Homo sapiens: one gene and its partners. The protein of the gene in region 3 interacts with the protein of the main gene of each other region in a biochemical or structural test. Each region holds a gene or a part of one and is shown on either strand. Other genes may lie near its edges. The genes, in order: PTPN1, ABL1, STAT5B and KIT.

Evidence for each region.
Region 1: the proteins of STAT5B (region 3) and PTPN1 form a complex in vitro, tested with the Homo sapiens proteins (one study listed by BioGRID and IntAct).
Region 2: the proteins of STAT5B (region 3) and ABL1 interact in a biophysical measurement, tested with the Homo sapiens proteins (one study listed by IntAct).
Region 4: of the proteins of STAT5B (region 3) and KIT, one has a biochemical effect on the other in vitro, tested with the Homo sapiens proteins (one study listed by BioGRID).

The regions. Positions count from the first base shown.
Region 1 is NC_000020.11:50,571,482-50,577,764, forward strand, and holds part of PTPN1 (tyrosine-protein phosphatase non-receptor type 1), read left to right. Parts: intron 1-3,035; coding exon 3,036-3,173; intron 3,174-6,283. UniProt on the Homo sapiens protein: Tyrosine-protein phosphatase which acts as a regulator of endoplasmic reticulum unfolded protein response. Mediates dephosphorylation of EIF2AK3/PERK; inactivating the protein kinase activity of EIF2AK3/PERK.
Region 2 is NC_000009.12:130,878,943-130,883,753, forward strand, and holds part of ABL1 (tyrosine-protein kinase ABL1), read left to right. Parts: intron 1-1,125; coding exon 1,126-1,215; intron 1,216-1,557; coding exon 1,558-1,722; intron 1,723-4,811. UniProt on the Homo sapiens protein: Non-receptor tyrosine-protein kinase that plays a role in many key processes linked to cell growth and survival such as cytoskeleton remodeling in response to extracellular stimuli, cell motility and adhesion, receptor endocytosis, autophagy, DNA damage response and apoptosis.
Region 3 is NC_000017.11:42,209,311-42,215,593, reverse strand, and holds part of STAT5B (signal transducer and activator of transcription 5B), read left to right. Parts: intron 1-991; coding exon of another isoform or gene 992-1,012; exon of another isoform or gene 1,013-1,062; intron 1,063-3,403; coding exon 3,404-3,610; intron 3,611-5,096; coding exon 5,097-5,191; intron 5,192-5,292; coding exon 5,293-5,423; intron 5,424-6,283. UniProt on the Homo sapiens protein: Carries out a dual function: signal transduction and activation of transcription. Mediates cellular responses to the cytokine KITLG/SCF and other growth factors. Binds to the GAS element and activates PRL-induced transcription.
Region 4 is NC_000004.12:54,721,389-54,727,671, forward strand, and holds part of KIT (mast/stem cell growth factor receptor Kit isoform 1 precursor), read left to right. Parts: intron 1-2,195; coding exon 2,196-2,310; intron 2,311-4,468; coding exon 4,469-4,662; intron 4,663-5,829; coding exon 5,830-5,936; intron 5,937-6,027; coding exon 6,028-6,154; intron 6,155-6,283. UniProt on the Homo sapiens protein: Tyrosine-protein kinase that acts as a cell-surface receptor for the cytokine KITLG/SCF and plays an essential role in the regulation of cell survival and proliferation, hematopoiesis, stem cell maintenance, gametogenesis, mast cell development, migration and function, and in melanogenesis.

The DNA of each region.
Region 1 (6,283 bases), on a different chromosome or scaffold from region 3:
TATCTTATTTGCTCAGCTAATCTAATTATAAATGATCCACACAGCTTGTGGTAAAACCAGCTTTTGGGGAGTTTTCATTTAATGCATACTTGTCTTCTGATTTCCTTCCTTCACCAAATAGTGTAGGATGCTCCCTCTTATTTTTGGCAAACATGCCTGTTATCTTTTGGGACCCTGGGCTTCCTGGAAACCAGTTATGCAGAAGATGATTGTGTGTGTTAGACTGGGGTCATCCAGATGGCTAGAGTTCTCACTGGTTCTGTTTAAGGATTGACTTTAGACACCTCAGTGTAGGCTGCACCATGGCGTAAGGGTTGGGATTGTTGTTTAGAAGGGGGAAGTAAGCAAGGTGAGTTTAATTGGCCATTGCAGAATCTCACCCGTATCTCCCTCCTGAAATCCTCACTAAAGCTGCCGTTTGCTTTCAGGTGCTTTCATGCACAAGACACTGCATTTTGTATCACAGGGTCCATATAATTCATTTTTCTCTCGTACTTAGTTCTCTGTGTTAAGAATTACTTACTTAGTTCTCTGTGTTAATAATTTTTGGCGAAACCAAATTACCCGTCACAGGGTTACTGTAGATGTCTTTCATAGGTTTTCCAAACACCACTTGCCCACTTGTTTGGGAAGGCCCCAAGGACTGTTTAACATCTGCCTTCATGGTGGAAACAGCAACTATGAGAGATGCTAGCATGTTGGCACTGCCATGTTCCTCTGGTACCAGCCCAAGATAGGACTCAATTTGAGGCCTGGTGAAGTACTGTGTTCTAATAAAAATCCATCTACTTTTCATGGCCGTATATATCAATGTAATAGGGTAACTGGAAATGTGATCTTGTGCCTTTTAAAAATTTTGTGTGTTTAAAACAAAAATTTCTATTGGAAATGACAGAGCATAGCTTGTTGCTGTAGACACCTGAGAGTCCTTAAAAATAAATATTGGGTTATTGACACTTAGTTGCATGACAGAATTCCTCACTTGTACAGTTCCAAAGTCTTAGTCTTTACCCAGATTACAGAGGGTTATTAAGCATTAGGTTTGGTTTTGAAAGTGAGTGCTTGCTGTCTGGAGGTGAGCTTTAAGACTCGTCTGCCCTGCTTATGAGATGAGGAAGGGTGGCCTCTTCCTCCTGCATTTCTGTTCTTCGCTTCCTTCTCTGTCTGCTCACTCTGTGGAATGCCCACCCCAGCACGGGTGGGGTGGAACCTGTCAGATCAGTCTCTTGTTTCTGGGGTCTTGAGGCATTATAAGATCTAGTTGTTAGAAGTGTGGGATTAATTCATCTTTTCACATTCTTCTAAGTTCCTGCTTTTAGCTGCCACACCCACTTTGGCTAAGTGGGGGTCTTGCCATGTAATTAGCGCCTCCATGCCAAGTGGCAGAATTGCTTCAATGGTGACAGATTGTCCCCATTCAAGAGTTCACTTTTGGCAACTCATCATTGATCCAGGAAGGTGACATGGATGAAACTGGCTAAGACTTCAGACAGGCTTGTGTCCAGACTCTTGAGAAAGCTCTGTTGGCTTCTGGTCTGGCACTGTGAAGTTTGCTGTGATGCTGGCACCACAACCTGGTGTTTCCTAATTTGTTTCTCCCACATTTTGCTTTGGTTTTGTCTTTTGGGCAGCTTCCAGCTCCAGTAGAGCAGGACCAATAGGCATTTGTGGTTCTATATTCACCCTCCTCACGTGCTTCCTGGCTCCTCATTGCCCCCAGATGATGCCACAGGTCCCTGGGCCTGCTGCCAGTCGTCTGTGATCTGGGCCTCTGCTGGCCCCTTCTCCAGCTGCTCTTTTCAGCCTCTTATTTGCAGTCACTGCCTAGGAAATCCTAGTCATCCTTCAAAACCTGCCTCTTGCACAGAGCTTTCTCTGATCTCTCTTTTCTGTAACCTTGGCTGACCTGAAACATTTCCCTCTTCTGAATTCCTGCTGCATGTCCGTAGCATTTCCCCCTCAGCCCTCCCCCATAGTCCACCTTGTCACTGCTGGGCACAGCAGTGTCTTCTGACAGACAGCTGGCCCTGAAGTGGTTCCCTTCACCCACACCATCCTTTGCCCCAGAGGAGGTATTGAGTGGGTCAGTGCACGTGAACTGCCAGTGTCATTTGCCAAAGAGCTGTTGACACACGCTGACATTTCTTTTGCTGAAAATCATAAGGGCTTTGAGCTTCCCTCTGTCCAGGCACATGGTCAGGCTGACCCGGTAGCTCTGCCCCTGCTGACCTGCCATTTTTGTCCACAACAGTTATCCATGAGCAGAAACATTTGTGTAACTGAGGCAGAAACTTAGTTCAAGTAAAATGTCACTAAATTCGAGTCAGTTTTTGTCTTAGACCCTAAATGAAACCAAATTTTCATAAATTTTCTTGTTTTAAAGAAAAATTTAATGAGCTACATTTAAACTGAGAACATCAGATAGTGTCTGAGATTATCAAAATAGAACATCAAAAGTATTTTTCTGAATGAACTGAACCAAACCAGAATGAAAGGGCAAGCCCTGGGGAGCCTGTCTCCAAGCCTTCTCTGAAAGGGAGTCTGTATTTGGTGATAACTGCTCAGCCTCTCCAAAGGGCCTCACCTGCTGTCTCTCCCAGTTTTATTTTTAATTGCCTGTGAGTTTTCTGTGCAGGGTAAGGCACCTACATTCTATGCCAGCAGCCTGATCAGGTCCTGGGTAATGTTTGAAATGGCTACACAGAGGAGTTTCAAAGCCTTTTGTTCAATCTGGCTTCACCTCGTAGACGGTGAGAAAGCGTCAGAGCCCTGCAGGATCCCGTTGCCACGTTTGACCGGGGAGCCGATGGGTTTGGAAGTCTGAGCCCTGTCTGCACAACCTGCCCCGGTCAGCAGCTTCGTGCCCCCACCCCCATCTCCCCATGAGGCAGGCATCTGTGCTGACCATGGCTTCCATGTTCAGAAACCCCCAGGCCTTTGAGTTATCATGAAGCTTGTGGGATGTGCTCCAAGCCTCCTGCCATAGAAAAACTGCCATATTGCTCACAATAATTCACTATTATTTGTTTCCCCAGTTAAAATGCGCACAATACTGGCCACAAAAAGAAGAAAAAGAGATGATCTTTGAAGACACAAATTTGAAATTAACATTGATCTCTGAAGATATCAAGTCATATTATACAGTGCGACAGCTAGAATTGGAAAACCTTACAGTGAGTATAGCACACACTTCAGCACTTCAGGCGGCTACTGGTTCACATGCCTCTTCCTTTATCCCTTGGGTGATATTACCTAATGTCAGTGTTCCTGGCTTTTGTATACCCCGAGCAAGATGTGGTTTGGGCACTGTGGTGAGCGGAGCTTACTTGTGTACCTACCAAGTGCCCAGGGAGGGTGGAGGCCACAGTGCTCTCTCTGACCTTTAACAACAGTTAACACCAGTTCTTAGGGAAAGGAGAGTTTCTTACCCAAAAGACTGGTTCCTGCTTGTGCAGCTGCAGAGGGACTGGAGCGGCAGCCTGCAAGTCCCAGTGAAGCATGCTGCCTTCTTTGTGGTCCTCAGTCTTCGAGTCTGAAGAGAGGGAAGAAGGGGTATAGGGGCTCACTCCAGTTTCATAGCTAGTGAAAGTTTTCTGGGCCAGGTCTTGGGTTTTTTTGTTGTGGGAAGAGTTTATAACACCAGCTACTTGCTTGGTAAAAGTTGGTCTTGGAACATGGCAAGGCATTGTGGCAAGCAGCACTGCCGCTGAACGCGCTGCTCCTGGGGCTTTGGAATAATTCCCCTGGATCCGTAACTTGGGGGTGTTCATGTCATTCTGGGGAACAGTGGAGGGAGTGCGCGGCAGCACCTGGGGGCACCAGTGAAGAGTGGCCAGCCACCAACCTCTAGAACCTAACTGGGGTCGAATCCTGGCCCCACCTTACTAGCTCATCACAGTGTCTCCGTTTCCTCTTCTGTCAAACTCAGGTTTTGCGAGGGTTCTGGGAGGTCCTATACGGGAAGGGTTAGCAGTTACCATGGGTGTGTAGCACGGGCTTTATCTGAAGGGAAGGTGGAGCCGTAGGGAGACCATGTGGAGTGGGGCTCCAGGGCTGTGTGGGTGGGGAGGGATCTGCTTCTGGGTTACCCCATGCCTCCCCTTCTCAAGTACTACTTTTTAATCATCATGGCTCCTGCCATTCATTTCATAGTTGATGTAAGCCAGGTGCGGTGGCTCACGTCTTTAATCCCAGCACTTGGGGAGGCTGAGGCCAGGAGGATCACTCGAGGCCAGGAGTTCAAGACCAGCTTGGGCAACATAGTGAGACCCCCGTCTCTACAAAAAAACAAAAACAGTTAGTCAGACATCGTGGTGCTCCCCTATAGTCCAGCTACTCAGGAGGCTGAGGCAGGAGGATTGCTTGTGCCCGGGAGTTCAAGGCTGCAGTGAGCTATGCTTGCACCACTGCACTCTAGCCTGGGTGACAGAGCAAGACCCTGTCTCAAAAATAAATAAATAAAAAAAATAGTAGAAGTAAGATCTAGAATGTAGCACAGGTTACCAGGACGTAGGCAAGGGGTTCGGGCTGCCTGGCTCTTGAGGATGGTAGCAGTGCAGCTGATGTGAGTGCTTTCTGCCCTCTGGTGGTGACCGCGCCGGAGTCACCAGCCCTGCCATAGCCCTGATGGGGCAGAGGGTTCTGAGTACGGTGGATGGAGGTGCTTTCTGGAAGATTCTCAGGAGTAACATGGGCAGTGTGTTGGAATGTGCTAGAGGATTTATGCAGTAGCCTTTTAAAAGAATGCTTTTTAGCATTTGCAAGCCTGACATTAAGAGTGACTTCTGGGAAACTATTTGCTTGTTGAGGGAAACTGAATTTCAACAGAGCAGAAGAGCTGTGCGCTTTTTGCTTGGCAGAGTGAATACAGCCAGCTCAGAGGTTTTGATGTTAGGATCTGTTTGCTCCAACAGACTTTGTTTTTAAAAGGCTTTTCTCAGCCATAGCTGTCTGTTCTAGCACAAGGCTGGAATGAGTTCCTTGTGAAAGAGGTGAGCAGGTGTGAGGGAGGGTGTCAGTGGGCGGTAACCCACACCTTCAAGGATTAAAGGAAAACTTGCATTTGGCATGCTTGCTTCTTATTCAATTTTAAAATACATTTTAACGGCCGGGCACGGTGGCTAACACCTGTAATCCCAGCACTTTGAGGGGCTGAGGTGGGTGGTTCACGAGGCCAGGGGTTCAAGACCAGCCTGGCCAAGATGGTGAAACCCCATCTCTACTAAAAATACAAAAAAAAAAAAAATTAGCCGGGCGTGGTGGCGGGCACCTGTAATCCCAGCTACTCGGGAGGCTGAGGCAGAGAATTGCTTGAACCCAGGAGGCGGAGGTTGCATTGAGCCGAGATCATGCCACTGCATTCCAGCCTGGGCGGCAGAGCAAGACTCTGTCTCAAAATAATAATAATAATTTTTTAAAAATACATTTTAAGTCCTTTTCTTCCCCACCTGCCTCCACCCACCAAATAGAAGAGGTATTTCTTCTTCTTTAATGTCATTAAGGTTATATGGATACCATTTTCTAGAGAGGAAAGAATGATGGAATTGCCTAGTGTGAGTCTAGCAATTATCCTAACATACACAAATTTCTCCTTGTTCTGTGCCAAGATACTGTATTTAATATTTAATGAACATTAAATATTATTTACTAGTGTATTTAATGGCTGAGGCAGGGTTAAATATGTATTATTTTCATCCCAGCAGAGTTGGGGGAGGTCCTAGTAACTATGCCATGAGCTCTGTGAGGGTGAGGTGGTGTCTTTGCCCCCGCCTCCCTGGCACAGTGACTGGCACATGATTGGCATAGTGTGGACATTCGTCAAGTGAAGGAAGGCATCATGAGCAGATCTCTGGCCTGAATCCTTCTGCCATCAGCTGCTCGCCAGGTGGCCCTGGCACTGGGCCACAGGGAAACTCTCCAGGCTGGTATGGTTCCTGTCTGTGGCTGTCTTCCCGGGCCCATGTTAGGAGACTTTCACTTCCAGAGCCCTTTCCCTCTCAGGGCCTTGCTTACCAAGTGACTGGTTCCCATTTACTAGGAGCTCTTAGGTCATTGAAGATGTTGCGTACTCCCCCCAGTGAGGGCTGCCTTTTGATCACAGCCGCCAGAAGCCTCAAGGAAGGAGCAGAGCTGGAAACAGACGCCAGGCCATTGCTTCTGTTCCTCTGGGGCAGACCCAGCCACGGAAGAGACATTCTGGGACAAGGGCTGGGGTCCACCTTTCAAACGTGTCTGCAGCAGGCTCTCAGCATGGACTCTCTGCCTCCAAACATCCACCTCCTCA
Region 2 (4,811 bases), on a different chromosome or scaffold from region 3:
TGTTGGCTCACTTCAACCTCCACCTCCCTGGTTCAAGCGATTCTCCTGCCTCAGCCTCCCAAGTAGCTGGGATTACAGGCATGCACCACCACGCCCGGCTAATTTTGTATTTTTAGTAGAGATGGGGTTTCTCCATGTTAGTCAGGCTGGTCTCCAACTCCCAACCTCAGGTGATCTGCCTGCCTCGGCCTCCCAAAGTGCTGCGATTACAGGCGTGAGCCACCACGCCCAGCTGCGAGGTGATTTTTATCTGGTCGTTTTATACTGATTACATATGTGTTATCTGTACTATGCACACACAGGATGTTTTCATATATCTTATAAGGTATTTATATGGCCATTTCTTACACTGTTTTCCCACACATGTCTTTCCACGTCCATATATTCAGATCTCTCCCTCTCCCTACCTCTTATTTATGTATAGCTGCCCAGTACTCCATTTCACTCATTCATCCGGTCCTCTTTTGATGTGCATTTGGTTGTTTTACACATTTGTTTGGTTTTTGCCCTTATAAACAAAGCAGAAACAAATATTCATGTACACGAATCTCTGGGCACTTTGGCTGGTATTTCTAAAAGTTGAACTGTTGGTTCCAAGAACTGTGTGGGTTTTAAATTTTGATACATTTTACCAAACTGTTAAAAAAGGTTGTGCCATTGTATGCTCCAGTCAGACGCATATGGGAGTGACTGTTCCTGGTCCCCAGTACTAGGCTTTGTCAGTCTGTTTAGTCCTCATGTTAGTCTCATTTTCATGAGAATTTCTTTACTTCAGACTTTGATAACCGTGAAGAAAGAACAAGATAGAAGGTGAGCTGTTTGGCTTAGTAATTTTCTACACCTACTAGAGCGGGACTGGGAAAAATATATTTGTAAATGCAGTTCTTGCTGTCACTGTCTCTCTGGGGTTTTACAATCCATATTCCTGCCAGCATCTAACGTCTTTTCAAATTCTTAATGTCTATAACAGGACATGATGACATTCATCGTTTTGACTTGTTGCAGCAAAAGATGGTTAGCAGGATTGGAATGTTGCTTTCATTCTAGACTTTTCCTTGAGAACTGCTAGCCCCGTATTGCTAGCCAGATCTCATGGATGATCTGACTTGGGTTTCATCTGTCCAGGTTGGCAGTGGAATCCCTCTGACCGGCCCTCCTTTGCTGAAATCCACCAAGCCTTTGAAACAATGTTCCAGGAATCCAGTATCTCAGACGGTAAAGTACCCATCCCGGGGTACCTGCAGTGGGGTGAAAGGGCAGCCATGTGGGACTGCAGCCTGGGTCATTCGGTTCACTTCCTGGTGAAAGTTCACAGACCAGCCTGTCCTGAGACCAGAAAGCTGGGCAGAGGTGTGGAGTATTGTGCTTTCTTGTCTGCTGCAGCCCTGCAGAGTTCTAAGAAATGCTAAGGGCTGTTTCTCCGGTATCCACGTGCCTTTTCTTTAGTTGTATGCAGATGAGCACTGTTACCTTACAAAGAAAGAGAACCACCACACCAAGCCAACACCAGTACTGATGGCTGCTGGATTTTTGTTTCTGTCCCTGTATGATTCTTAGAAGTGGAAAAGGAGCTGGGGAAACAAGGCGTCCGTGGGGCTGTGAGTACCTTGCTGCAGGCCCCAGAGCTGCCCACCAAGACGAGGACCTCCAGGAGAGCTGCAGAGCACAGAGACACCACTGACGTGCCTGAGATGCCTCACTCCAAGGGCCAGGGAGAGAGCGGTAAGTCCCCCGCTTCCCCCAACCCCACTGCTCTTCCCTTCCCTGCCAGAGGCTACATTCAGGCCATCATAGGCCAACGGGAAGCTGTGAATGGAGCCCGCACAGAAGGGCAGCCATGGCCTTTGTCAATGGTTCAGCTTCGGAAGGAGGAAGGTTCTCCTCTCCCCACCTGCCTCCTATCCCCTCCCTCTGAGAGTCCCCGAGGAGCATAGGCTCCAGCAGTGAGTTCAGTCCTGTAGGCAGAGGTGCTTCTGAAGCCCGCCAAGGAGCTAGCCCATCTCCCACCTATTACCCGCGGCATCTGTGGTTGCTGTCTCAGAGCAGATTCAACAATAGTAAGCACCAGGCTGCGTGACAAGCAGCTCACGGTGAAGGCACTGATGTGAGAAGCTCGCTGCAGCCAGGTGGAACCAGGACACGCACATGGACAGAACCCGTGTCCTGGTGGTCTCTGGGAAGAGCATCTTTCTGGTGCCATTGCCTAGGCGAGCAAGGGAGTTGGGATCAGCTCAGGAGGGGGTCTCAAGACACTAGCAAAAATAATAATGGCCAACATTTATGTAGTGTGCCTACTACAGGCCAGGCTCTGTTCTATGTTCATGGTTGACCCCCAGAACCAGCAGTCCAGGTTCTGCTGCAGACCAGCTGAACAAAAGCATTGAGGGGTGTATTAGTCTGTTTTCATGCTGCTAATAAAGGTATACCCAAGACTGGGTAATTTATAAAGGAAAGAGGTTTCACTGACTCACAGTTCCACATGGCTGGGGAGGCCTCACAATCATGGCTGAAGGTGAATGAGGAGCAAGGTCACATCTTACTTGGCGGCAGGCAAGAGAGCTTGTGCAGGGGAAGTCCGCTTTATAAAACCATCAGATCTCGTGAGACTTATTCACTACCACGAGAATGTGGGAGAAACCTCCCCATGATTCATTGATCTCCACCTGACCCCACCGTTGACACGTGGGGCTTATTACAATTCAAGGTGAGATTTGGGTGGGGACTCAGCCAACCCATATTGGAGGTGGGGGGTAGGCCAAGCATCTGGGTTCACAGAGGATCCTGGGGATGGCAATGGTGGACTCCATTCTAATGGACTGCAGACTGGGTACATGTGAAGGGACTGGACAAAGCCCTACTTCTTGAAGATTTATGGTGGGATGTTTACTGACAGCAGAATCTATAAACCTGAGTTTTATCACGTACTCTCATTAGTAAAAAAAAAACAAAAAAAAACAGAACATGCAGCCCATATATATGGTATATAAAGTACGTATGTCCACTACTGTAGGAGTAGAGTGCGTATGTTATGTACCAAAACGCACATTTAAAAGGCTTGCATGCTAAATAAGTCCAAATTTGCAATACTTCCCGCCCCGCTGGGCCATCTCACTCACCTACTTGGAGGTTATGGCGTATAGACTCTCCAGAATCTTCCACCCTTCCTCCTCTTATCGGTTTTCCTGATTTCAGGTGGCTGAGCAGTAGGGAGGAGAGGCCTCTGGGAACGCTGTGCTTATTAAGAACCCAGTGATCAGCAGTCATGTTCATTTACGCCCGTCAGTTTCATCTGAGGGGTATTTTGATAGTGATCTCTTGGTGAGCCGAGGGTGTCAATTAACTGCTCAGTGCTGAAACTGAGTGGTGCATAATTCATTGCAATTTCACTCTCCTGGCCTCCTTCCACTAGATTAAAGTTTTGGGAGGGCTTTGGTGTTCCCTGATTCAGATGTCCCGCGTGCTGCCTTGGGTTCTGATAAATGCATACTGGTACCTCTGTTGAGTTACAGGTGCCAACAGAAAACCTCTTCTTGCAAGCTGACCTCTGAGGGAGAATTCTGTTACTCACTAGCAGGAGCTTGGCAACACCAAAAAGATTTCCTTTTTTTTTTGAGATGGAGTCTCACTCTGTTGCCAGGCTGGAGTGCAATGGCATGATACCAGCTCACTGCAACCTCCACCTCCTGGGTTCAAGCGATTCTCCTGCCTCATCCTCCTGAGTAGCTGGGACTACAGGCGTGTGCCACCACACCCAGCTAATTTTTGCATTTTTTAGTAGAGACGGGGTTTCATCATGTTGGCCAGGATGGTCTCTATCTCTTGACCTCATGATCCGCCCACCTCAGCCTCCCAAAGTGCTGGGATGACAGGCTTGAGCCACCGCGCCTGGCTACCAGAAAGATTTCTTATGAGCTATGATTCATATTTAAAGAGTGCCCATTAAAAAACTGTTGGCCGGGCGTGGTGGCTCACACCTGTAATCCCAGCACTTTAGGAGGCCGAGGTCAGCGAATCACAAGGTCAGGCTCCCGTGGCACAAGCTGGGGGCTGCCCCCACCCCATGCTCCCCAGAGGAGCACCCAAGCGTCTGGGCTCAGACAGGCCTGGATCTGATAACCGGCTCTGATGCCACCATCCCTGAGGCCAGGCAAGTCCCAGCCGGGCTACAGCACTGTTGTGAGAATGCAGATGAGGTTGTAAAGGTGAAGCACGTGTCACGCTTCTCTCAATAAAGCCATCATTGCTGTTAGGATTGTCATTAGGAAAGGCTTTGGGCCGGGTGCAGTGGCTCATGCCTGTAATCCCAGCACTTTGGGAGGCCAAGGCGGGTGGATCACCTGAGGTCAGGAGTTTGAGACCAGCCTAACCAACATGGTGAAACCCCGTCTCTACTAAAAATACAAAATTAGCCAGGCGTGGTAGCGGGTGCCTATAGTCCTAGCTACTTGGGAGGCTGAGGCAAGAGAACCATTTGAACCTGGGAGGCGGAGGTTGCAGTGAGCTGAGATCGTGCCACTGCACTCCAGCGTAGGCAACAAGCGAGACTCCAACTCAAAAAAAAAAAAAAACCACACACACGCTTTGGTCTCTTTCCCTGAAGATGGGAACAAAAAGCTGGACGGCCCTGGCCTCTTCATCCCTGCACTGGTTTACTTGAAGGCAGCAGCCCCCCACCCACCCACATCACTCTCTAGTGAGTATAAAAACGATGACAAGGCCAAGCAAAGGGTCAAAACCTGTGGCTCTCCTGCCAGCCAGCTAGCCGAGAGGCCTATGAGGAGCTCTGGGAATAAGGGGCTGTGTCCCACAGT
Region 3 (6,283 bases):
AGTGGGAGGCAGAATAGAAAGAATGTGGAAAGTGGAAAGAACATGGGCTTGACATCGGGCCAGGGTTTGAACTGAGACTCCACCATTTCCTCACTCCATGACCACATGGGCAGTTCACTTTACCTCTCTGAGCCTGAGTTTCCAGCAAGTGTCTGCAGCACAGGGATACTCTTGCTCTACAGCATTGTTAGGAAGATTAAATTAGATAACATAGAAAATGCTTGCCACACAGTCAGTACTCAGTAAATATTATTTTGAATCCTTGGGTGAAACTATGAATGGGATTTGGGACTCCTAGGTTCACTCCAGAGGTTAGATCTCTCCAGAGGCTTACTTTAGCATAGAAGTTGCTTCATACCCTCTTCCTTTCAATAAATGAAGATGCTGTTAAATGTCTTTTCCAAATTTTAGTTTCTGTGATTCATTCTAGGTCTCATGAAGAATGAGATACTTTGCCTCAAGGAAGATATAATTTGGTGGATTTATGCACCCAAACGCTATCTGAATCCCACTAGCATGCTGCTCGATGAGCATTTTAAAGATCTCATAGGCTGGGTGCGGTGGCTCATGCCTATAATCCCAGCACTCCAGGAGGCCAAGGCAGGCAGATCCCTTGAGCTCCAGACTAGCCTAGGCAGCATAGCAAAATCCTGTCTCTACAAAAAATACCAAAAAATTAGCCAGGCATGGTACACCAGCCTCTAGTCCCAGCTACTTGGGGGGGGCTGAGGCGGGAGGATCGCCTGAGCCCAGGAGGTCCAGGCTGCAGTGAGCCAAGATTGTGCCACTGTACTCCAGCCTGGGTGACAAAGCGACACCCTGTCTCAAAGAAAAAAATTTTTTTAGTAGGCAAAGGTCATTTGTTACATATTTCCAATAGAGATTAGTCCATAAAAGCATGATAAAAGGGTTATCATTTGGGACATAAGAGCATGTCCTTCTCTAAGTATATCCAACAAACCTTGATTATGTTTTGTTTTGTGGCTGTTAGAATATAGGATTTGACTGTTAGTTCAACAGCTCATTTACAAAACAGCATGGACAGCATGGGTTACCTTCCAGTTGTGTGTAAAGAAGGTGAAATGGAACCTTCTGGCTCACGTGGAGAGGCTTAACGTTTCCCAACACTCCTCTTTAGAGAAAAAGTATTTTACTGCAAAGGTGAGATTTTTAAGAGATTTACCATACTTCACTTACAAACTCTGAATCAGAAGCTCCTTTTTGAAACTGTCTGTCTGCCTCTTGTCCTGATAAGCCTCCTAGATAAGATTGCCACATCTCTTGTTTCCTTCCCTGCCTGTCCACAGATCTCACTCTCTGTGTACCTTTGGCATCTCCTGCACCATGTAATTACTCAAGTATCTTGTCTAAATAAATAAGCATTTTTAACATTCTCAGCTATGTTAATGACTACTTACATCTTATGCTATTTTTTTTTTTTTAATTTTTTTGAGACAGAGTCTTGCTCTGTCACCCAGGCTGGAGTACAGTGGCATTATCTCGGCTCACTGCAGCTTCTGCCTTCTGGATTCAAGCGATTCTCCTGCCTCAGCCTCCCGAGAAGCTGGGATTACAGGTGCATGCCACCACGCCCAATTAATTTTTTATATTTTTAGTAGAGACCAGGTCTCACCATGTTGGCCAGGCTGGTCTCGAATTCTTGACCTCAAGTGATCCACCCACCTCGGCCTCCCAAAGTGCTGGGATTATAGGCATGAGCCACTGCACCCAGCCGACCTTATGCTATGTTAAAAAAAAGACTTTCAGCTGGGCACGGTGGCTCACACCTGTAATCCCAGCACTTTGGGAGGCCGAGGTGGGTGGATCATTTGAGGTCAGGAATTCGAGACCAGCTTGGCCAACATGGTGAGACTCTCATCTCTACTAAAAATACAAAAATTAGCTGGGCGTGGTGGTGCGTGCCTATGATCCCAGCTACTCGGGAGGCTGAGGCAGGAGAATTGCTTGAACCTGGGAGGCAGAGGTTGTAGTGACCTGAGATGGTGCCACTGCACTCCAGCCTGGGCAACACAGTGAGACTCTGTCTCAAAAAAATAAAAAATAAAAAATAAATAATAAAGACTTGTGGCCAGGCACAGTGGTTTATGCCTGCAATCCCAGCACTTTGGGAGGCCAAGGCAAGCGGATCTCTTGAGCCCAGGAATTTGAGGCCAGCCTTGTCAACATAGCAAAACCCTGTCTCTACAAAAAACACACAAATTAGCCAGGCATGGTGGTGCACGCCTGTAGTCCCAGCTGTTTGGGAGGCTGAGGTAGGATAATTACTTGAGCTAAGGAGGCAGAAGTTGCAATGAGCCAAGATTGGGCCACTGTACTCCAGCCTGGATGACAGAGCGAGACCTTACCTAAAAAAAAAAATAATTGTGGAAATTTATTCTCCATATATATTTGCCTATGTGTCCTGTGGGTCAAATAACATAAGAACATTGCAGCATTGTTAGTAATAGCTAAAGATGAGGCTGTAACACTGATGCCCATCTATGGGGGTCTGGTGAAATTTCTTTATGTGCTGATGGGAGGTCTCCCAGATAGAGGATTAAGTGAAAAGAGGAAGATGCAGAACATGTGGATTTTGTGCTGTCATTTGTGAAGAAAAGGAAAAGGTATATGTCATTGCTGGCATGCATAGAATATCTTTGGTGGGATACACAAGAAACTGTGTTAGGTGCCTTTAAAGAAAAGAACTGGGTTGCTGGGAGACAGGGATAGGGAGTGACTTCACTGTGTAGCCGTCTGTGCTTTTTGAATTTTAAATCATGTGAAAATCACCTATTGAAAAAAGTGTTTGTAACAAAATAAAATGGAGTACTATGGCTGAACGGGTTGAAAAGCAGTTTATTAAAAGTTAATCTTCTAACCTATTTCTCAATAAAGCCATCCAACTCAAAATTTCCACTCTTCCATACCAAGTTGTTTTACTTTGAGCTAGAATTCTTGGCAGAAGGAGTCGAGGGCAATGATTCCACGTGTGTACACACATGCCGACACGTGTGCACACATACGCACACTCTCTCTGTTTGTACCTAGAGGACCAGTCTTTCAGATTTCTAAATTCCCAAGGTGTTTACAATCTAAGAGCCAGACCTTGGTTATGTTTTGGTTTGTGGCCGTTAGAACATAGGATTTGACTGTTAGTTCAGCAGCTCATTTACAAAACAGCATGGATAGCATGGGTTACCTTCTAGTTGTGTGTAAAGAAGGTGAAACGGAACCTTCTGAATTTCACAGAACCGTGTACCCCAGCAGAGTCTGAATTTATCCTCAGGCCCTGCAAGACAAATGTGTGTAACCACTCCCAGCCATCAGCGTTTTTCTTTTGTGGCTTGAGGGAATAAATCATGCAACTGTTTTCTCATCAGATTCTGGCCTCTCTCCCTCTCAGGGCAGGGTGCCATTTGCCGTGCCTGACAAAGTGCTGTGGCCACAGCTGTGTGAGGCGCTCAACATGAAATTCAAGGCCGAAGTGCAGAGCAACCGGGGCCTGACCAAGGAGAACCTCGTGTTCCTGGCGCAGAAACTGTTCAACAACAGCAGCAGCCACCTGGAGGACTACAGTGGCCTGTCTGTGTCCTGGTCCCAGTTCAACAGGGTGAGGAGCCCAGCTGCCAGCCGCTGTTAGATCAGTCCTTCCCAACCAGATGCTCTCAGGAGTCTCCCTGCCCTGGGCCCTTATTCTTCATGTCTCTAATAAAATGTACCGAAAGTAATAGAAGCTTCTGACTAGATGGACAACTTGAGAGTTACCCAGGTCACGTGTAGAAAATTACATCTTTGCATATTTTAAATAAGTTGACCTTTGTCTACAGTTAATGCATTTTCTTCCTTTGTAAAGGAAATAGAGCAAAGCAGATGTTAACATAGCTCATGAGAAGCAAAGCTTTTGAGGGGATGCGAACTCTGGGCCTCTCTCCCCTTTACTCTCTTATGTTCCCCATGTGTAATGCCAGATCAGGCTCCTATGGGACCCTCAACCCACAAAGAGGGATGCTGATGAAAGAAACTCCTCCTCTAGCATCTGCTAATTCAGACGTCACTTTGATTTTATTTTTATTCATTTTTTTTTTTTGAGACAGAGTTTCGCTCTTGTTGCCCAGGCTGGACTGCAATGGCACGATCTTGGCTCACCGCAACCGCCGCCTCCTGGTTTCAAGCGATTCTCCTGCCTCAGCCTCCCGAGTAGCTGGGATTACAGGCATGCGGCACCACGCCCCGCAATTTTGTATTTTTAGTGGAGACGGGGTTTCTCCATGTTGGTCAGGCTGGTCTCGAACTCCCGACCTCAGGTGATCTGCCCGCCTCGGCCTCCCAAAGTGCTGGGATTACAGGCGTGAGTCCACTGTGCCCACCCTATTTATTTTTGTTTATTTATTTATTTTTGAGATGGTGTCTCGCTCTGTCACAAGGAGTGCAGTGGTACATTCTGGGCTCACTGCAACCTCCGTCTCCCAGATTCAAGTGATTCTCCTGTCTCAGCCTCCTGAGTAGCCGGGATTACAGGCACCCGCCACCATGTCCAGCCAATTTTTGTATTTTTAGTAGAGACGGGGTTTCACCATGTTGGCCAGGATGGTCTCAAACTCCTGACCTCAAGTGATCTGCCTACCTCAGCCTCCCAAAGTGCTGGGATTACAGACGTGAGCCACCATGCCCGGCTATCACCTTGATTTGAATTTAATTTTTGTTTCTTTTCCTACACCCCCCACCCCCAAGGTGTTTTAAATGTTTAATTTGGAGCCTAACAACGTGCATTTCTCAGAAGCTCCCAGGTGACACTGATGCTTCTGGTCACAGACCACACATCGAAACTAGCAAGGGACGGGTCAGCCCAGTCCCAGGTGAAAGTGTCTGTAGCAGGAGCCCACTGGGTGCTGGTAACTGCAGTTTGGTATTTTCCCCTTCTTCCCTCTTTTCCTCTCCATGGGGCCATTAGGTAAAACTCAGGTAGGCGGGGATATTTGTATGCCTCTGACAAGGGTAGATGTTTGTTTCCCATTTAATTTTTCCAATTAAATATGTGTATAATATTCCAAGTGTTACTCTGGTGTTCTTATGTTCACTGTTGTATCTCCAACCAGGAGAATTTACCAGGACGGAATTACACTTTCTGGCAATGGTTTGACGGTGTGATGGAAGTGTTAAAAAAACATCTCAAGCCTCATTGGAATGATGGGTGAGAATCATTATTTCTTAAGGCGCCGACAGAGTCTGAAGGTCTTCTCTCTGGCATCGTAAGTCACACTCTGCTTCTGTCCTTTGTCCTTGGTGATCCAGGGCCATTTTGGGGTTTGTAAACAAGCAACAGGCCCATGACCTACTCATTAACAAGCCAGATGGGACCTTCCTCCTGAGATTCAGTGACTCAGAAATTGGCGGCATCACCATTGCTTGGAAGTTTGATTCTCGTGAGTGCCCCTCCCTTCTTATGTCCAAAGTTAGCTGCTTTCGTTACAAAATTATTTTAACAAATAATTTAGTGGGTACTTACTATTTGTTGAGGTCAGTACTAATTATGGGAAACATAAATGTATAGCCATGACATACTCATAATAAGGCAGCCTATGAAAAATACTATTATGGGAAACACAATTGCTAATTTGGTTATACATGAAAGTATATGGCAGCATGGTTACACATGAACATTTAACCATGACATGGCTACCTATGATACAAGAGTCCGTGCAGAATCTCAGTTGCTTCCCTCTTAAAATGTTTGCCTTATTGTACTACTCTGCATAAAGCTTATTTCAGTGAAGAATTTGATGATTTGGAGTTCTTACAGTAGTAAAAATATTCCTTTATCCTAATTAACATATGGATATTGCCATCAACCATTTCTACCCAAGATGTTAGTTCTTTTCTTTTTTTGAAACAGGGTCTCACTCTTTTGCCCGGGCTGGAGTGCAGCGGCACAAACATGGCTCACTGCAGCCTTGACCTCCTGGCCTCAAGCAGTCCTCCTCCCTTAGCCTCCCGATTAGCTGGGACCACAGACGTGCACCACCACACCCATCTAATTTTTAAATTTTTTGTATGTTGCCCAGGCTGGTCTCGAACTCCTGGGCTCAAACAATCCCCCACTTTGGCTTCCCAAAGTATTGGGATTACGGGCTTGAGCCACTGCACCAGGGCATCAGGAAAGTTAGTTCTCTCCTCTGACCCTCACAATAAGGGTAGCTTGCTGGTTCATTTTCTGTGAATTAAAGTTTTTAATAACTTTTGGCTGGGTGCGGTGGCTCATGCCTGTAATCCCAGCACTTTGGGA
Region 4 (6,283 bases), on a different chromosome or scaffold from region 3:
TTTCAGCCTGATCACACAGTTGCCCATGATAATTAAATGAAACTTGCCAGATGGATGCTTTCGCAAGACGATGGCTTGTCTTCTTGCTCTATTTGTAAAGCTGGCATTGGATCCAAACTCTCAAGGATGCCCCTACCTTGAGATTGTTTTGGAGAGTTTCTCTTTTGTGTATATTAGCCAAATGGCCTGCTCATCAGCAGGGCCAGGTTGAGTGACAGGTGGGTGTGTCATGCATGTGGATACTCTGATCTCCGCCAACTCCAGGGAGGTGCCTCCAGGGAGGTGAGGTGCTGAGAGGTTATTCTACAAAGATGTCATTTATCAGTGTTACCTTCCTTTGGGGAAATAAACTTCCTAAGTTTCTGATCTGTCAGTCTTTCCTTCTCACTGCATATATTTTCCCTATCAGTTGCAATATAATTGATGTTGAATTCCCTGCGCATTGGGTTAAAATATACACCTTATCAGACTATTCTAAAGAAGGAATTTTTAGATTATTGAGGAGAATATTTAGAGTGGCAAATACAGTTCACTTCATTTGTAGTGAAATTGGTTATCCAAGAAAGGTAGATATTCTGATTATAAAATAATAACTCAGTATTAATAGTAATAATAAATTTTATTGAGATGGAGTCCCACTCTGTCACCCAGGCTGGAGTGCAGTGGTGCTCACTGCAACCTCTGCCTCCTGGGTTCAAGCCATCCTCCTGCCTCAGCCTACCGAGTAGCTGGGACTACAGGCGCATGTCACTGTGCCCAGCTAATTTTTGTGTTTTTAGTAGAGATGCGGTTTCACTGTGTTGCCCAGGCTAGTCTCAAACTCCTGACCTCAGGTGATCCACTGCCTCAGCCTCAGCCTCCCAAAGTGCTGGGATTATAGGCTTGAGCCACCGTGCCCAGCAATAATAATAATAAATAATTGTTTCATTTCTATAAGTCATTCTTAGCTCTCTGTATGTGCCATCTCATTTAATTGTCTCAATATCCCTATGAGAGGGGCACAGTTATTATTCCCATTTTACACATGAGGGAACAAAAATTTAGAGAGATGTAGAAACTTACTCAAGTTCAAAGAACTGAGAAATGTAAGAGCTGGTATTCAGATGTGTCCACTATGCATGGGGCTCCCGTAATTCTGTGCTTAGACTTGGCACAATCAATGCTATTCTTCAGAGTACAGGGTGAGCATATCAGCATCCCTGCCATCCTGTTGCTTCTGTTGAGCTTATTTATTCTTAGAGGGTTGGAATCCTTCAGATGTATTGCCATCAGAACCACCGAGTATAAGTGCATCTTCCTTTCACTTTGTAAATAACTTCAAAAATTAGAAATTCTTGAGTGTTAGCTGGTTATTGTAGTTACATAGAAATACCAAATTAGAGCATTTCTGCTGTTACAGTGAATATATTCAGATTTATATATATATTTATATATATATATGTATTTATATATATTTATATATATTTTTATATATATGTATATATATTTATATATATGTATTTATATATATATATTCACGTTCATAATATACATAAATATATAAATCTTAGGCTGGTTTTCTTTTCTAGTTTTCTGTTCATATTTTGCATTTGAAACAAAGATTTGAAGTAAAGCCCATATTGTATTTTACTCTTTATGTTCTAGCTTCCCTGTAAATAGAGTGATTCGGCTTTTAATCGGCACCACCCTTCCACCCCCAAAAAGGAGAAAATTCATGTAAGAGCAAAAGAGTGGGGCTTATCTTTTCCTCTAACAACTCCTAATTTCATCCATTCCAGTTCCCACAATAACTTGAAATTCCTAGGGCAGGTACAGTTGCTTGAAATCCCATTGGCAGGAATCCTTTAAAGTAGATTTTTACCTGTGGAACACTTTGGAGTCCTAGAGTTTGATTAGAAGCAGTCTTCAGATCCCTACTCCCTGAAAGCAGAAACCCTGCAGTTGGCCCTGCCACCTCTGCCTCAGCCATCTCCTCTGGGGCTGGGCCACTGTGGCTGGGAAAGCCTTTCTGGGTTGGACCCTGACAGCCGCCTCCTTGTACCTTCCACTCCTTGGTTCAGATTCTGCCCTTTGAACTTGCTCCCTCAGGCTACTCAGCAGCCTCAGGAAGGTTGTAGGGATTAGAGAGGGAGTGAAGTGAATGTTGCTGAGGTTTTCCAGCACTCTGACATATGGCCATTTCTGTTTTCCTGTAGCAAAACCAGAAATCCTGACTTACGACAGGCTCGTGAATGGCATGCTCCAATGTGTGGCAGCAGGATTCCCAGAGCCCACAATAGATTGGTATTTTTGTCCAGGAACTGAGCAGAGGTGAGATGATTATTTTTGGCACTGCTTATAATGCAGAGGGGAAGGACTGCAATTCACTTGAATTTCAAATATGTTTTCTGATTTTTTTTAAAAAAGCTTTGTTTTGATTATTGTTTTTTTTCTAGCCATGTGGCTTTTTAGAAGGGATAATTGCTATATTTTTCTTGGTAGACATTAATTTTGTTTGCTGAAAAATCATTACTGAATGACTTCTCTATTTTGGTGTTATCTTTCTGGATTTATCATGCAATTTCTAGCCTGCAGGTAGATAAAGCAATTTTGCAGGACAGAGTAATTAGATTTCCATTCTATACACAGGAGGTAATGTGTGTGGGAAATGTGACTGTAGTTATCATGAAAAAATTACCTCAGTAGTTAATTGCCAAGTTACCAAAAAGTAATGATCGCACAATTACAACATACATATGGCATTTGCAAGCGACCGCTTTTAAAAAGGGTTTCTTCTTGATAATGTGCCCAGCCCCTGAACAGAGAACATCTGGCACTGTGCTGCTTGCCCCTCACCATCCACACTTAAGCCTTAAATTGCCCTTTTGCATTACCTGAAGACGAAAATGGGGTCACCACAGCTGTTTTTATCCATCAATTGCTATTTTATGCTCAGGCTTTAAAAGCCCAGGTTAACATCACAATTGAATAGTTAGTATGGTCGCAGAAATTTTATTTTTCATGGAATAAGCCTCTTTATCACAACAAGTTGGAAGGGGTTACATCGGATTGCTGTTTTCAGCTGGGGTTTAGGAGAGTGTTTTCTTTTGGGGAATACTAAGTAGGGTTCAAGGCCCCTGGGAGGAATGGCCACAGCAGAAGCAAGCCCTGTAGTTACAGGCATTCATTCAGTAGATACACAGGGAGTGGCAAGTGTGTACCAGACACTATTCTAATGGACAGAACACACCCAAGTCTTTTTGCCTTTATGAGTTTATGTTCTAGTGCAGGGGTGTTCAGTCTTTTAGCTTCCCTGGGCTACACTGGAAGAAGACGACTGTCTTAGGCCACACATAAAATATAGTAACACTAACGATAGCTGATGAGCTAAAAAAAAAAAAAATTGCAAAAAAATCTCATAATGTTTTAAGCTTCATGAATTTGTGTTGGGTCGCATTCAAAGCCGTCCTGGGCCACATGTGGGCTGCAGGTTGGATAAGCTTGTTCTAGTGGGTAGAAACACATAATAGATGGAATAAACAATGAATGTATGTAGGTGTTAAGAAAGGAAACAGGGAATAGCTAGGTGTTTAGAATAGGGAAGTCGGGGTCTGGCTCATGAAAAGGATCCCTTGCAGTGGTGGTCTCAGCCACCTGCAGTATAACTAGGCCTTCCTGCTTAGAACTCAAACTTCAGTCCTCACTTTGACTATTTTCTGGTCTACATCCTTGATTTTGTTGTTGTTGTTGTTGTTGAGACCGAGTCTCACTCTCTTGCCCAGGCTGGAGTGCAATGGAGTGATCTTGGCTCACTGCAACCTCTGCCTCCAGGGTTCAAGTGATTCTCCTGCCTCAGCCTCCCGAGTAGCTGGGATTACAGGCGCCTGCCACCACGCCCAGCTAATTTTTGTATTTTTAGTAGAGACGAGGTTTCACCATGTTGGCCAGTCTGGTCTTGAACTCCTGACCTCAGGTGATCTGCCCACCTCGGCCTCCTAAAGTGCTGAGATTACAGGTGTGAGCTACTGCGCCCGGCCCCTTGAAGATTTTTTATGCTTTCCTCCTCTATGCTATTTCTTTTCAACCATTCGTGTACCCTTTTGAAGCTTGTTTATTTTAGGGATCTACTGTGTACCAGCATATATGCCTGCCATTTTATTGAATTCCTTTCCAATCCTTTCAGTAACCCTCTGCAATGGGTATTACTATCCCTGTTTTACAGTCGTAGAAACTCAGTGTTGGTGGGGGTTAAAAACTCATCAGGATTCAAACCCGCATCTGACTCCGAAGCCTCCTCTGCCTTCTCTTCCCCAGTGCTTTTTTCACTCACTAGGTCACCAAAGTGCTTATTCTTAGACACTTGTAAAAGGACATTTTCTGTTGATTATGAACCTCTAACTTTGTTTTAAAAGTATGCCACATCCCAAGTGTTTTATGTATTTATTTATTTTCCTAGAGTAAGCCAGGGCTTTTGTTTTCTTCCCTTTAGATGCTCTGCTTCTGTACTGCCAGTGGATGTGCAGACACTAAACTCATCTGGGCCACCGTTTGGAAAGCTAGTGGTTCAGAGTTCTATAGATTCTAGTGCATTCAAGCACAATGGCACGGTTGAATGTAAGGCTTACAACGATGTGGGCAAGACTTCTGCCTATTTTAACTTTGCATTTAAAGGTAACAACAAAGGTATATTTCTTTTTAATCCAATTTAAGGGGATGTTTAGGCTCTGTCTACCATATCAGTCATGATTTTAAGTTCATTCCAACATTGACCATGTCATTTCTGGTAATACATGCATCACACCATACTGTCATCAAACTCACTAAGTTTCATTTTGTACTAGCTTGTTAAGTATATGCTTTTACCAGAGCAATTTTAACCATGCTACTTTATATATTTTATATGTATGTGTGTCTCTATTAGTTGTATATTTACAATTGTCTCCATTAAAAAGAGCTAGAGAAAGCAAATGGGGGAATATATTTACCTTACACCCAAACAGAATTAGAACAATCTAAAATTTAAATTCAATTAAAAATTTCAGTTATTTAAAATGAATTATTTTAACACTTTGCCAGACACTGTATCCAAAAGTTAACACTGCCTTTATGAAGTCATGTTAGCAAGTTATTTCTTTAAAATATTTAAAATTTGATTCATGTGTGACTAACTCTCTTAACAAGTTAAAAGATCTTTTGGGCAAACTGATGAATTGGTACAAAGTGGGAAGACAAAGAAACTGGGCACTTACTTTTTAGGCCTTCTTGGGGTTTTGTTTGTTTGTTTGTTGTTTTCGTTTTTTGAGTCGGCAAAGACTAGTGCCAAAAAGTGGCGTGTTTTCTCAGGTTTTGAGTAGTGAGGGGAAGAATCTTCCATGTTTTTCAGACAGGGCAACGAAAAGAATACCTTAAAAATGTTTTTTTTTTTTTTGGTTGTGAAAGACATTCATGCTCAGTGTAGAAAATTTGGAAAATACAGGAAAGCTTAAAGAAGAAAATATAAACCGTCCATAAAGGAAGCTTCTTTTTTTTAAAGTTGTACAAGGCAGGAATTTGATTGAAGTATAAAGTGCATTCAGATGTTGCTTTTCATTGAAAAACAGCATAAATTATTCCTTTTCTACAGAAATCTCAACTTCTATTCTGCAGTATTGTGGTTTCAAGTTATATTTTTAAAGATTCATTTGAATAACAAGAGTACAATGTAACCAAGGTGAAGCTCTGAGACTCACATAGCTTTGCATCCTGCCATGGGCTGTGAGTTGGGAGGTGGGGTCAGTTTGGGACTGAGTGGCTGTGGTAGAGATCCCATCCTGCCAAAGTTTGTGATTCCACATTTCTCTTCCATTGTAGAGCAAATCCATCCCCACACCCTGTTCACTCCTTTGCTGATTGGTTTCGTAATCGTAGCTGGCATGATGTGCATTATTGTGATGATTCTGACCTACAAATATTTACAGGTAACCATTTATTTGTTCTCTCTCCAGAGTGCTCTAATGACTGAGACAATAATTATTAAAAGGTGATCTATTTTTCCCTTTCTCCCCACAGAAACCCATGTATGAAGTACAGTGGAAGGTTGTTGAGGAGATAAATGGAAACAATTATGTTTACATAGACCCAACACAACTTCCTTATGATCACAAATGGGAGTTTCCCAGAAACAGGCTGAGTTTTGGTCAGTATGAAACAGGGGCTTTCCATGTCACCTTTTTGGGTACACATAACAGTGACTTTAAGGAACTCCAGTGGCTTCCTTTGTTTTGTTCCACCTGAAACAATGAGTTTTCTGTGAAATTGCGCCCCT